Linked DNA regions of Homo sapiens. The protein of the gene in region 3 interacts with the protein of the main gene of each other region in a biochemical or structural test. Each region holds a gene or a part of one and is shown on either strand. Other genes may lie near its edges. The genes, in order: ARIH1, BTRC and UBE2R2.

Region 1 (3,652 bases), on a different chromosome or scaffold from region 3:
AAATGTTTGTGTCCCCCTAAAATGTGTATGTTAAAACTTAATAACCAATGTGACAGTATTAGGATGTGGAGCCTTTAGGAGGTGAATGGAATTGGCATCCTTTTTAAAAAAAAAAGGGGCCCAGAGAGCTGCCTTGTCCTTTCCACCATATGAGGACCCAGCAAGTAGGCACCATCTATGAACCAGAAAAGCAGGCCCTCGCCAGACAACAAATCTTTTGGCACCTTGATCTTGGACTTCTCACCCTTAAGAACTGTAAGAAATAAATTTATGTTGTTTAGAAGCCGCCCAGTTTATGGTCTTTTGTTATAAAAGCCTGAACATTAAGACAGAAAATGGTACCAAGAAGTGAGGGTGCTGTTCTAACAAAACCAAAAATGTGAAAGCCGATTTGAAACTAGGTAGTAAGTAGAGGCTGGAAGAGCTTGGAAGTGCAAGCTAGAAAAAGCCTAGATCACTGTGAATGAACTGAATTGTTAAGGGTAATTCTGGTGAGGATTCAGAAAGACAGAAGTGCAGGGAATGCCTCAATCATAGAGAAAACCTAAATAAATGGCCATGAACAGAATGTTGTTAGAAATATGGACAGTAAAGGCCATTATGATGAGGTCTCAGATGAAAATGAGGAACATGCTGTTAGAAACTAGAGGAAAGGCCATCCTTGCTATAAAGTGGCAAAGAAGTTGGCTGAATTGTTTTGTGGAAGGTAGAGAAATGAAACTGAATATCTGGTTGAGGAAATTACTAAGCAAAGTGTTGAAGACGCAGCTTAGCTTCTCTTGAATGTTTATAGAAAATGCAAGAAGAGATGAATGACCTAGAGATAAACTGTTCATCAAAAGGAAATAAGAAGTCAAAAATTTGAAAAATTTTCAGCCTATCCACTTTGGAAAAAACTAGAACACCTATAAAGGAGCCTGAACTGATTAAGACATCCCCTAATATGTGGCACTGGAAACTTCCTGGCAGTTCAAATCTAGAATTCAGAGGCTGAAGAGTATACTATAGAACTCCAAAAGCCCAAGTTACCAAGAAAGCTGGGCGAGAGGAGCCACAGGAAAACTCTTAGTTAAAAAGGAGACCATCAGCAGAATTTACCTGCACATTTCCTTTGCATAAGTAAGGTTAAAATTTGGCAGAGTAAAGAAAAACGTATAGTCCCAGATCTACAAGTTTGCTCCCATTAAGTTACAGTGGAGCATACAGGAAGATATGATTAGAGTTGTATATTTTCTCCATAAAAAAAAATTCAAAAAAGTTAGAACATCAAGGAAAGAGGAAAAATTTTTTTAAGATGTGACCTTTTCATTCAATTCTGAAAGAGATATATACTATTTTAAACCAGTATCAAACATCTCCCTGCCTAAGGTAAACACTTTTTTTCTGCTATTTTACTACCAAGAATAAACAGGAGAAATGGAAACGCTTTGTGCACTATTTCAATTTAGGAAATCACTTGCTTACCAAAATTGGCGCCCACATTTGCAGCGAACAGGTTTAGCATCAGGATATTGGACTTTAACAACATGGTGGCAATCTGGGGCAGGACACCACTTTAACAGTCGATTGCACTGAAATACAAGTTAGAAAATAAAAAATGACAGCTGGCTGGGCACAGTGGCTCACACCTATAATCCCAGAACTTAGGGAGGCCAAGGCGGGAGGACTGTTTGAGGTCAAGCACTCCAGACCAGCCCGGGCAACATAGCAAGACCTTGTCTCTACCTTAAAAAAAAGAAAAAAGAATTTAGCCAGGCATGGTGGTATGTGCCTGTAGTCCCGACTACACAGGAGGCTGAGGCAAGAGGATCACTTGAGCCCAGGAAGTAGAGGCTGCAGAGAGCTGTGATCATCTGCTGCACTCCAGCCTGGGTGTTAGAATGAGGCCCTGCCTCAAAAAAAGACAGCAAATTAAATTAGGTCATGATGCAAGATTTCCTAGTACATCAAGCTATTTATATTGCTTCTCTGGTACAAGGGGCAAATGGGGGATAATTACACAAGCTTATGAAAACTTGCTGTGGTCTTCTATAGCAACACTTCAGATGTGCCTTTTTTTTTTTTTTTTAAAGATGACTGATCCCTGAAGACCTGGTTTTATAAAATACATGAATCACCTCTTGTTCTATCTTCAAAATCCCACTGAATAACTTTAATTAAATATCATGTATGTGACCATTAAAAACCACTAATTTATTTACAGTTCTATTTCAGAACAATTTTCAAAAGACACAAGAAAATCAGATATACTCTTTATCAAGGAAGGTGTTTAGAAGCTACAGAATAGTTCAAGATAGGCTAAAGGATATACATACAACTTCTCCCATAAAAAGCTCTTGTAAGAAGGAAAAAAAAAAACAAACAAAAAACCCAGTTCCTAAACCACAGGCAAAGATTGCATTTTAGTTCCTCAAAAGGAAATATAACTTTTATAGTATTATGAAAAAAAAACACTCTGCACCAGAATTCAGAAGTCCATTGACCATTTCAAATAATACACTATTTCTAAAATAGGCTGTTTCCAGGTTTAATCTCTAACAGAAATAATTACTTTCTAGAATTAAAAGACCAAGTTACTGATGTTGTCATACAGGGGCTGAAAAACTCCTCTGTAACAAGCCAAGAGGGTAAAGAATTTTGGTTTTGCAGGCCAGAACAGTCTCTGTAGCAACTACTCAACTCTGCCACTGTAGCACAAAAGGAGTCATAGAACAAATGGGCAAAGGCATGGTCCAATAAAGGATAGCATTCTTTATTAACAAGATTTACTGGTAATGAAACCTAAAACGAGCAGAGAAATAGCAGGGTTAGAATCTCAAACATGATTAAACATGACACGATTAGTAATCTACTACAATTCTCAGCTAGGGATAAAGAAAAGTAAAGGAAGAATACAGTAAAAATAATTTTATTATCCAAGGTCAAGATCTATGGAGAGATGTACTTACTGGTTTCTCATACTCTTTTATTTTATTTTATTTTATTTTTTATTAAGAGGGAGTCTCGCTCTGTCACCCAGGCTGGAGTGCAGTGGCGCCATCTCGGCTCACTGCAACCTCTGCCTCCAGGGTTCAAGCGATTCTCCTGCCTCAGCCTCCCGAGTAGCTCGGATTACAGGCTTGTGCCACTGTGCCCAGCTAATTTTTGTATTTTTAGAAGAGACAGGGTTTCGCCATGTTGGTCTTGAACTCCTGATCTCAGGTGATCCACCCGCCTCGGCCTCCCTTAGTGCTGGGATTACAGGCATGAGCCACCACACCTGGCCTGTCATACTCTTTTGAGAATAAAGGTATTTTGGCATGCTTCATAAATATGTTAAAGATGTTTTTTACTGTCAATAAATTATAATTTTTAAAATAGTATTTCTATTAATAAACAGAATTCCTTCTTACAAGAAGGAAAACAAATCACTTACCTCTACAAAGCTATTTGTTATTAAATGCTGATACTTTAATTTAACTTTTGAATCTGTGATCAGGCGCCTGAAACCAAGAATAAAAATAGATTAGAAAGTTTCCAGTCAAGAGTATTTTCCACATTTATAAAACATAGTTTCAAAAGCTGTTTATGCTACGGCTACATGTTTATGCCCTAAGCTGTAAATACTGAAATGCACATAGGCTATCAACAAATATAACTGTACTGATCAGAA
Region 2 (3,652 bases), on a different chromosome or scaffold from region 3:
AGGCACAAAGATCACTTAACCCTAGCCTGAGTTCAAGGCCAACCTGGCAACAGAGCAAGCAAGATCCCATCTCTAGAGGCCAGACGCGGTAGCTAATGCCTATAATCCCAGCACTTTGGGAGGCCGAGGCGGTCGGATCACCTGAGGTCAGGAGTTCAAGAATAGCCTGGCCAACATGGTGAAACCCCGTCTACAAAAATACAAAAATTAGTCAGGGATGATGGCAGGTGCCTGTAATCCCAGCTACTTAGGAGGCTGAGACAGGAGAATTGCCTGAACCTGGGAAGCGGAGGTTGCAGTGAGTTGAGATCGTGCCATTGCACTCCAGCCTGGGTGACAGAGCAAGACTCCATCTCAAAAAAAAAAAAAAAAAAAAAGCAGATCCCATCTCTAGGCCAGGCATAGTGACTCACGCCTGTAATCCCAGCACTTTGGGAGGCCAAGGTGGGCGGATCACTTGAAGTCAGGAGTTCGAGACCAGCCCGGGCAACACGGTGAAACCCTGTCTCTACTAAAAACACAAAATTTAGCTGGGCGTGGTGGCACATGCCTGTATTCCCAGCTACCTGGGAGGCTGAGGCACAAGAATTGCTTGAACCCAGGAGGTAGGGGCTGCAGTGAGCCAAGGTTGCACCACTGTACTCCAGCCTGGGTGACAGAGTGAGACCCTGTCTCAATTAAGTTTTTTTAAAAAAAAGAGATCTCTTTTGAAAGTTTATTTTCTAATTTAGCAATAAATAATTTCTAAAACTACTCAAAGTTGAATTTTTACTCCACATCTAATAATTCACTTTTGATAATTTATGAAAATCTACTATAAACATAAATTTAGAAAATTAGCAAAAAGAGGCCGGACACGGCAGCTCACGCCTGTAATCTCAGCACTTTGGGAGGCCAAGGCGGGCAGATCACCTGAGGTTGGGAGTTCGAGACCAGCCTGACCAACATGGAAAAGCCCTGTCTCTACCAAAAATACAAAATTAGCTGGGTGTGGTGGTGCATGCCTGTAATCCCAGCTACAGGGGAGGCTGAGGAAGGAGAATCACTTGAACCTCAGAAGCAGAGGTTGCAGTGAACTGAGTTTGCACCATTGCACTCCAGCCTGGGCAACAAGACCAAAACTCCATCTCAAAAAAAAAAAAATACAACAAAATTAGCCAGGCAAGGTGGTACACGCCTGTAATTCCAGCTACTTAGGAGGCTGAGGCAGGAGAATCATTTGAACCCAGGAGGCGGAGGTTGCAGTGAACCGAAATTGTGCCACTGCACTCCAGTCTGGGCAACAGAGCGAGACTCAGGGTATCTCAGACAAAAAAAAAGAAAATAGGCAAAAAGAATTACCACTAATTTCATACCCCAACACCTATAAGAGTACCCAGAAAACAAACTGTTTGAAAGCCAATTTAAACTGGGAATAGGTAAAGTATACACAAAAACTCAGACAACTTAAACTAAGAACTAGTTTCAGATGTTCATCCCACTACCTGGTAATCAATTTCACTGATGTAAAGAAAATTCCATTACAGTGAAACATCTGACAATTTATTTTAAAATGTAATCTGTTTAGATACCTCTGTTTCCTGAAGTAAGTAAGCAAGTTTACTTAATCACATTAATTCACCCAGTATTATGTCAACAGTGACATCATTAAGGGAAGTCACGCAGGAGATCATGTTAGTGCCTTCCGAAGTTAACCTCAAAAAAAGAGATGCCTCCTAAACATTCCTAGCATTATGACCCACAAACTTGGCCGATACCATTTTTATTTTTAGCCTTAACATCCAACTAGCATAGCACCTACGGTAGCAAGTCTCAAAAGGTGGCCCCCAGCAATTCCCCCTTCCTTGTTTATGCACGCCACCCTTCCTATCAATAGGTAGACATTATTTCTCCTCCCTCTGTAGTTGGCCTTGACTGGCTTTGACCCACAGTGACATTCTTGGACTTCCAAATCTAGGATTTAGAAGACTGGCAGTCTCTACCTCCTGTCTCCTGGAATGTCCCTTCTTAGAACCTTGCCACCACACTTTAAGGAAATCCAAGCAGCCAGGTAGAGAAAGGCCCATATAGAGGAGAAGTGAAGGTCTTTCCCACACCTCAGCCAATACCAAGTGAAGCAGAAAAACCATCAGATTTGAGGGGAAAAATAATTGTTTTTTTTAAGCTAAGTTTTGAGGTTGTCTGTTAAACAGCAAATATTTACCCTTTATACTGTTTCATTTATCTATCAGCTCTATAAATAAAACAATACATTCTAAAATTATTTCATCTATTTCAAGCTACTGTACTTGATTCTGGGATTGGCTGGACAAGAATATATTTATCCTGTTTTTAAAAATAAACGTGGCTTGGCAAGGTGGCTCACGCCTGTAATCCCAACAATGGGAGGCCAAGGCAGGAGGACCCCTTGAGCCCAGGAGTTCAAAAACCACCCCTGTCAACAAAGGGCGACCCTTGTCTCTACAAAAACAAAAAAGAAAAAAAAAATAGCCAGCATAGTGGTGTGTGCCTGTAGCCACTTGAGACGCCGAGGCAGGAGGATCATGTGAGCCTGGGAGTTTGAGGCTGCAGCAAGCTATGACTGCACTCTAGCCTGGGCAACATAGTGAGACCCTGTCTCAAAGGTGAAAACAAAAATAAAGTTCAAATTCCTCCTCAGTATGTCTTTTCAACCCCTATCTTAAACGTGCTTGTGTGTGTGTGTTTGTGTGTTTTGGGGTCTATATTCCCTCAATCATTTTCATTTCTCTTCTTAGGTTCTCTTCAAGTTTCCATTTATACTTTTGTTAACCAAAAAAGTATTAAGAAAGGTCCTTGAGGACCTGCTAAAGCTGAATGAGAGACATTAGCACGTAAGTTAATGTAAACCGTTGCTTTCAATATCATTTATTTGTTTTTAAAAGTTAAACATTCTGCTTAAACTTTTTTCACAAGTAAAACAATAAGCTTTAAGTCTCGATCACGTGTGAATTATGGTCATCTCTGAATCAGCAGTCTTATTAACAGGATTTTATTGTAAAATTCTTTATCAAGGCACTTTAGTATAGCAATGAGCAAATTTGTGAGAGTATCCATTTCATTCTGGCATTTTAAACTAATTTTACATTTGTTTAAACCATGGAAATCATGACATCTGTATAAAAGTTGTCATTAGCGATTCACAATTGAGGGAAAGGTTAAGACCAGAACAAAGCCAAATAGTAATAAAAATGCCCGTTTGATTAAAAGGATAGTTCTTCCATGTGTACTGTGCACTAATTATTTGATGCTAGCTCAAATAGCTTCCTTTTTTTTTTTTTTTTTTTTTGAGACAGAGTCTCGCTCTGTCACCCAGGCTGGAGTGTAATGGCACGATCTCAGCTCACTGCAACCTCCACCTCCTGGGTTCAAGTGATTCTACTGCCTCAGCCTCCCGAGTAGCTGGGACTACAGGTGCGCGCCACCAGGCCTGGCTAATTTTTGTATTTTTAGTAGAGACAGGGTTTCACCATGTTGGCCAGGATGGTCTCAATCTCCTGACCTCGTGTTCCGCCCGCCTCAGCCTCCCAAAGTGCTGGGATTACAGGCATGAGCCACCACGCCTGGCCAATATCTTCCTTTTTTGTTTGTTTGTTTTTTTGAGACGGAGTCTTGCTCTGTCGCCCAGGCTGGA
Region 3 (3,652 bases):
TTAGAATAATCTCACTCCAATAAAGTTAAAAACAAGAGCAAACAAAACAAAACAAAACAAAACTTGTACATGAGAGAAAATAATGGGTTGCAAGTTGTAATATTTGTGCATAAGTCTGGGAAAGGAGTGTGGAGAACCCTCTCTGAAATAGGAAGTATGGAAGGATTCCTTGTGTTAATACACTGATTTAAATTAAATGCTTCTGAACTTCAGTCCTTGTTTAAAAGAATGATTTAATCTCGTGCTTTGTGATGTTAGATTTCTTAAGCTTTGAGTGTTTTTACCTTTAATTCTGACATGTATGAAAATTTGTAAACAGGTTTTATGGTTTAGTCTTGTGTGAGAAGTTTGTTCGATTGTATTTTCGACTACTTTTTCCCTTATATGGCCTTTTATCCCATTAGTTGTTCATTAGAAAAAGGCAAATTTATGGTCATGAGCAGTTGACACTGGGGATATGTTTAAAACCATTGTTTTTATTTTACTGCTTTTGTCTTAAGACAAGGCTTTTAGTGTATTTCACTACAGCTGCAGTTGAAAGTTGGCACAAAGCTTTCCCTACCATATCACTCTTCTCCCTTATTAAATGTTAGTCCTTGAACATTTAGTATAATTTATTTTCAAGTTAAACTCTTTTCCCTTTTTGGCATAGTCATTCGTGAAGGCAGTGGGACTGCCAGTCATTCTTTACATTTTTCATACTGTAATTCCTTTAACTTTTATATATTAATAGGTTTCTAACTGATCTTTTTCACCCTGAAATAGTTGGCTCTTGTCTCTTACCCACAGGATCTGCATTGGAGATTTGTGAGACCTGTATTTCACAGAATTTTTTTATTCATCCTGCTTTCGCTTATTTAATATCGCCAATCCACGTGATTCTTAGTTTTGGGCCATATAGATGTAGGATGGGCAAAGATAGTTTCTTCTGTCCATTCTGAATACTATACAATCTTTTTTGGCCTTACTATCTTTTTGTGTAGTTTCTTATTTTGCTACCTAAGCAAGTCGGAATTTTATTGTTACTAGAAAAATAAATTGTGGATCAAGTCAGTAGCTAATGAAGACTTTTAACAAGTTCACCCCCTTTCTTTTGAAAGGAACTTTTTCAGGGTCTTTCTCTGTCACTTAGTTTGGGGTACAGTGGTGTGATCATGGCTCACTGCAGCTTCCACATCCTAGGCTCAAGCAGTCCTCCCACCTCAGCCCCCTGAGTAGCTGGGACTACAGGCATGACTACGCCCGGCTAATTTTTTTTTCTTCAGTATTGTTAAGTGAGGTAGGGTCTCACTATTTTGTCCAGGCTGGTCTCAAACTCCTGGGTTCAAAGGATCCTCCTTTCTCAGCCACCCAAAGTGCTGGTTTTACAGGCGTCAGCCACCATGCCCGGCTGGAACTATCTTTTCAAATAACTCCTGCTAAGGATTGTAGCTTAGTGTGGGTGCTTTAGTACTGAACCTCCTTGGAACTTTTGCATTATTTATCTAAAGCATTATAGCAGTGAGTCTAGAGCCAGAAAGAGTGCCTCTTTTATGATATGCATAACAAAAAAAAATTTTTTTTTTTTTTGAGATGGAGTCTCACTCTTTTGCCAGGCTGGAGTGCAGTGGCACGATCTCAGCTCACTGCAACCTCTGCCTCCTGGGTTCAAGCGATTCTCTTGCCTCAGCCTCCCGAGTAGCTGGGATTACCGGCGTGCGCCATGAAACCTGGCTAATTCTTTTTGTATTTTTAGTAGAGACAGGGTTTCACCATGTTGGCCAGGCTGGTCTTGAACCCCTGACCTTAAGTGATCTGCCCATCTCAGCCTCCCAAAATGTAATCCTAATTAGAGGCCTGAGCCACCACTCCTGGCCAACCTTTTATAGTTTTGATTTTATTAAATAATTTGATTGAGGTAATGAAATATAGATGTGTTCCATTTTTAGAAAACTCCAGTCTGATAATTTAGAAAGTATTTGTTGTATACTTAAAGTTTTCCTTATTAGGAACATCTTTATTAGACTCAACACTGACATATATATATATATATTTTTTTTTTTTGAGACTGAGTTTTGCTCTTATTGCCCAGGCTGGAGTGCAGTGGAGCGATCTCGGCTCACTGCAACCTCCGCCTCCTGGGTTCAAGCGATTCTTCTGCCTCAGCCTCCTGAGTAGCTGGGATTACAGGCATGCGCCACCATGCCCAGCTAATTCTGTATTTTTGGTAGAGACGAGGTTTCTCCATGTTGGTTAGGCTGGTCTCAAACTCCTGACCTCAGGTGATCCCGCTCACCTCAGCCTCCCAAAGTGCTGGGATTACAGGCCTGAGCCACCACACCTGGCCTACACTGACTTACATTAAAGAAACTCTTCAAAACCTTTTTTTTTTTTTTTTAAGAGATAGGGTCTCACTTTGTTGCCCAGGCTGGAGTGCAGTGGTGTGATCATAGCTCACTGCAGCCTGAAACACTTGGGCTCAAGGGATCCTCTTGCCTCACCCTCCTGAGTAGCTGGGACTGCAGGTGCATACCACACTCGTTTTAATTTAAAAAAAAAATTGTTTATGCAGAAAGGGTCTCATAGGCCAGGCTGGTCTCGAACTCCTGGCTTCAAACAATCCTCCCACCTTGGCCTCCCAAAGTGCTGGTGTTACAGATGTGAGCTACCACACCCAGCCAAATAATTTTTTTTTTAATAAGAGAATATGCATTATTTCCTATGCTTCATTTGTTTTGCAATGAATGAATCTATTTTCTGCCTTCCCTCTTCCCCCTAAAAAAACAAACCAGACTTAGCCTAGATCTGGCAATGTCATTTAGATATTTTATTTCTTTTTTTTCTTTTTCTTCTTCTTATTAATTTTTTTTTTTTTTTTTTAGCTGAGTCTCGCTCTGTTGCTCAGGCTGGACTGCAGTGGTGTGATTTCGGCTCACTGCAACCTTTACCTCCTGTGTTCAAGCAGTTCTCGTGCCTCAGCCTCCCAAGTAGCTGGGATTACAGGCGTGCACCACCATGCCTGGCTAATTTTTGTAATTTTTAGTAGAGATGGGGTTTTGCCATGTTGGCCAGGCTGGTCTTGAACTCCTGGCCTCAAGTGATCTGCCCACCTTGGCCTCCCAAAGTGCTGGGATTACAGATGTGAGCCAGTGTGCCCAGCCTATTATTATTATTTTAGAGACAGAGTCTCGCTATGTTGTCCAGGCTTGTCTTGAACTCCTGGGCTCAAGTAATCCTCCCGCCTCAGCCTCCCAAAGCACTGCGATTATAGGTCTGAACCATTGCACCCAGCCTATTTTATGACTCTTTAATTGGTAAAATATAGTTGAAAAAAAATTTTTTTTTTTCCTAGATGGAGTCTTGCTCTGTTGCGCAGGCTGAAGTGCAGTGGCGCGATCTTGGCTCACTGCAACCTCTGCCTCCCGGGTTCAAGCAGTTCTCCTGCCTTAGCCTCCCAAGTAGCTGGGATTACAGGTGCGTGCCAGCACGCCCGGTTAATTTTTGTATTTTTAGTGGAAACGGGGTTTCACCATGTTGTCCAGGCTGGTCTCAAACTCCTGACCTCAGATGATCTACCCGCCTTGGCCTCCCAAAGTGCTGGGATTACAGGCATGAGCCACCGCGCCTGGCTGAAAAAATTTTTTTAGGAAAATGATTGTTTGCCTTTTTGAGA

The links.
Region 1: the proteins of UBE2R2 (region 3) and ARIH1 form a complex in vitro, tested with the Homo sapiens proteins (one study listed by BioGRID).
Region 2: the proteins of UBE2R2 (region 3) and BTRC form a complex in vitro, tested with the Homo sapiens proteins (2 studies listed by BioGRID).

What each region holds. Positions count from the first base shown.
Region 1 is NC_000015.10:72,561,313-72,564,964, reverse strand, and holds part of ARIH1 (E3 ubiquitin-protein ligase ARIH1), read right to left. Parts: intron 3,483-3,652; coding exon 3,416-3,482; intron 1,572-3,415; coding exon 1,465-1,571; intron 1-1,464. UniProt on the Homo sapiens protein: E3 ubiquitin-protein ligase, which catalyzes ubiquitination of target proteins together with ubiquitin-conjugating enzyme E2 UBE2L3.
Region 2 is NC_000010.11:101,357,096-101,360,747, reverse strand, and holds part of BTRC (F-box/WD repeat-containing protein 1A), read right to left. Parts: intron 1-3,652. UniProt on the Homo sapiens protein: Substrate recognition component of a SCF (SKP1-CUL1-F-box protein) E3 ubiquitin-protein ligase complex which mediates the ubiquitination and subsequent proteasomal degradation of target proteins. Recognizes and binds to phosphorylated target proteins.
Region 3 is NC_000009.12:33,820,066-33,823,717, forward strand, and holds part of UBE2R2 (ubiquitin-conjugating enzyme E2 R2), read left to right. Parts: intron 1-3,652. UniProt on the Homo sapiens protein: E2 ubiquitin-conjugating enzyme that accepts ubiquitin from an E1 ubiquitin-activating protein, and catalyzes its covalent attachment to other proteins by an E3 ubiquitin-protein ligase complex.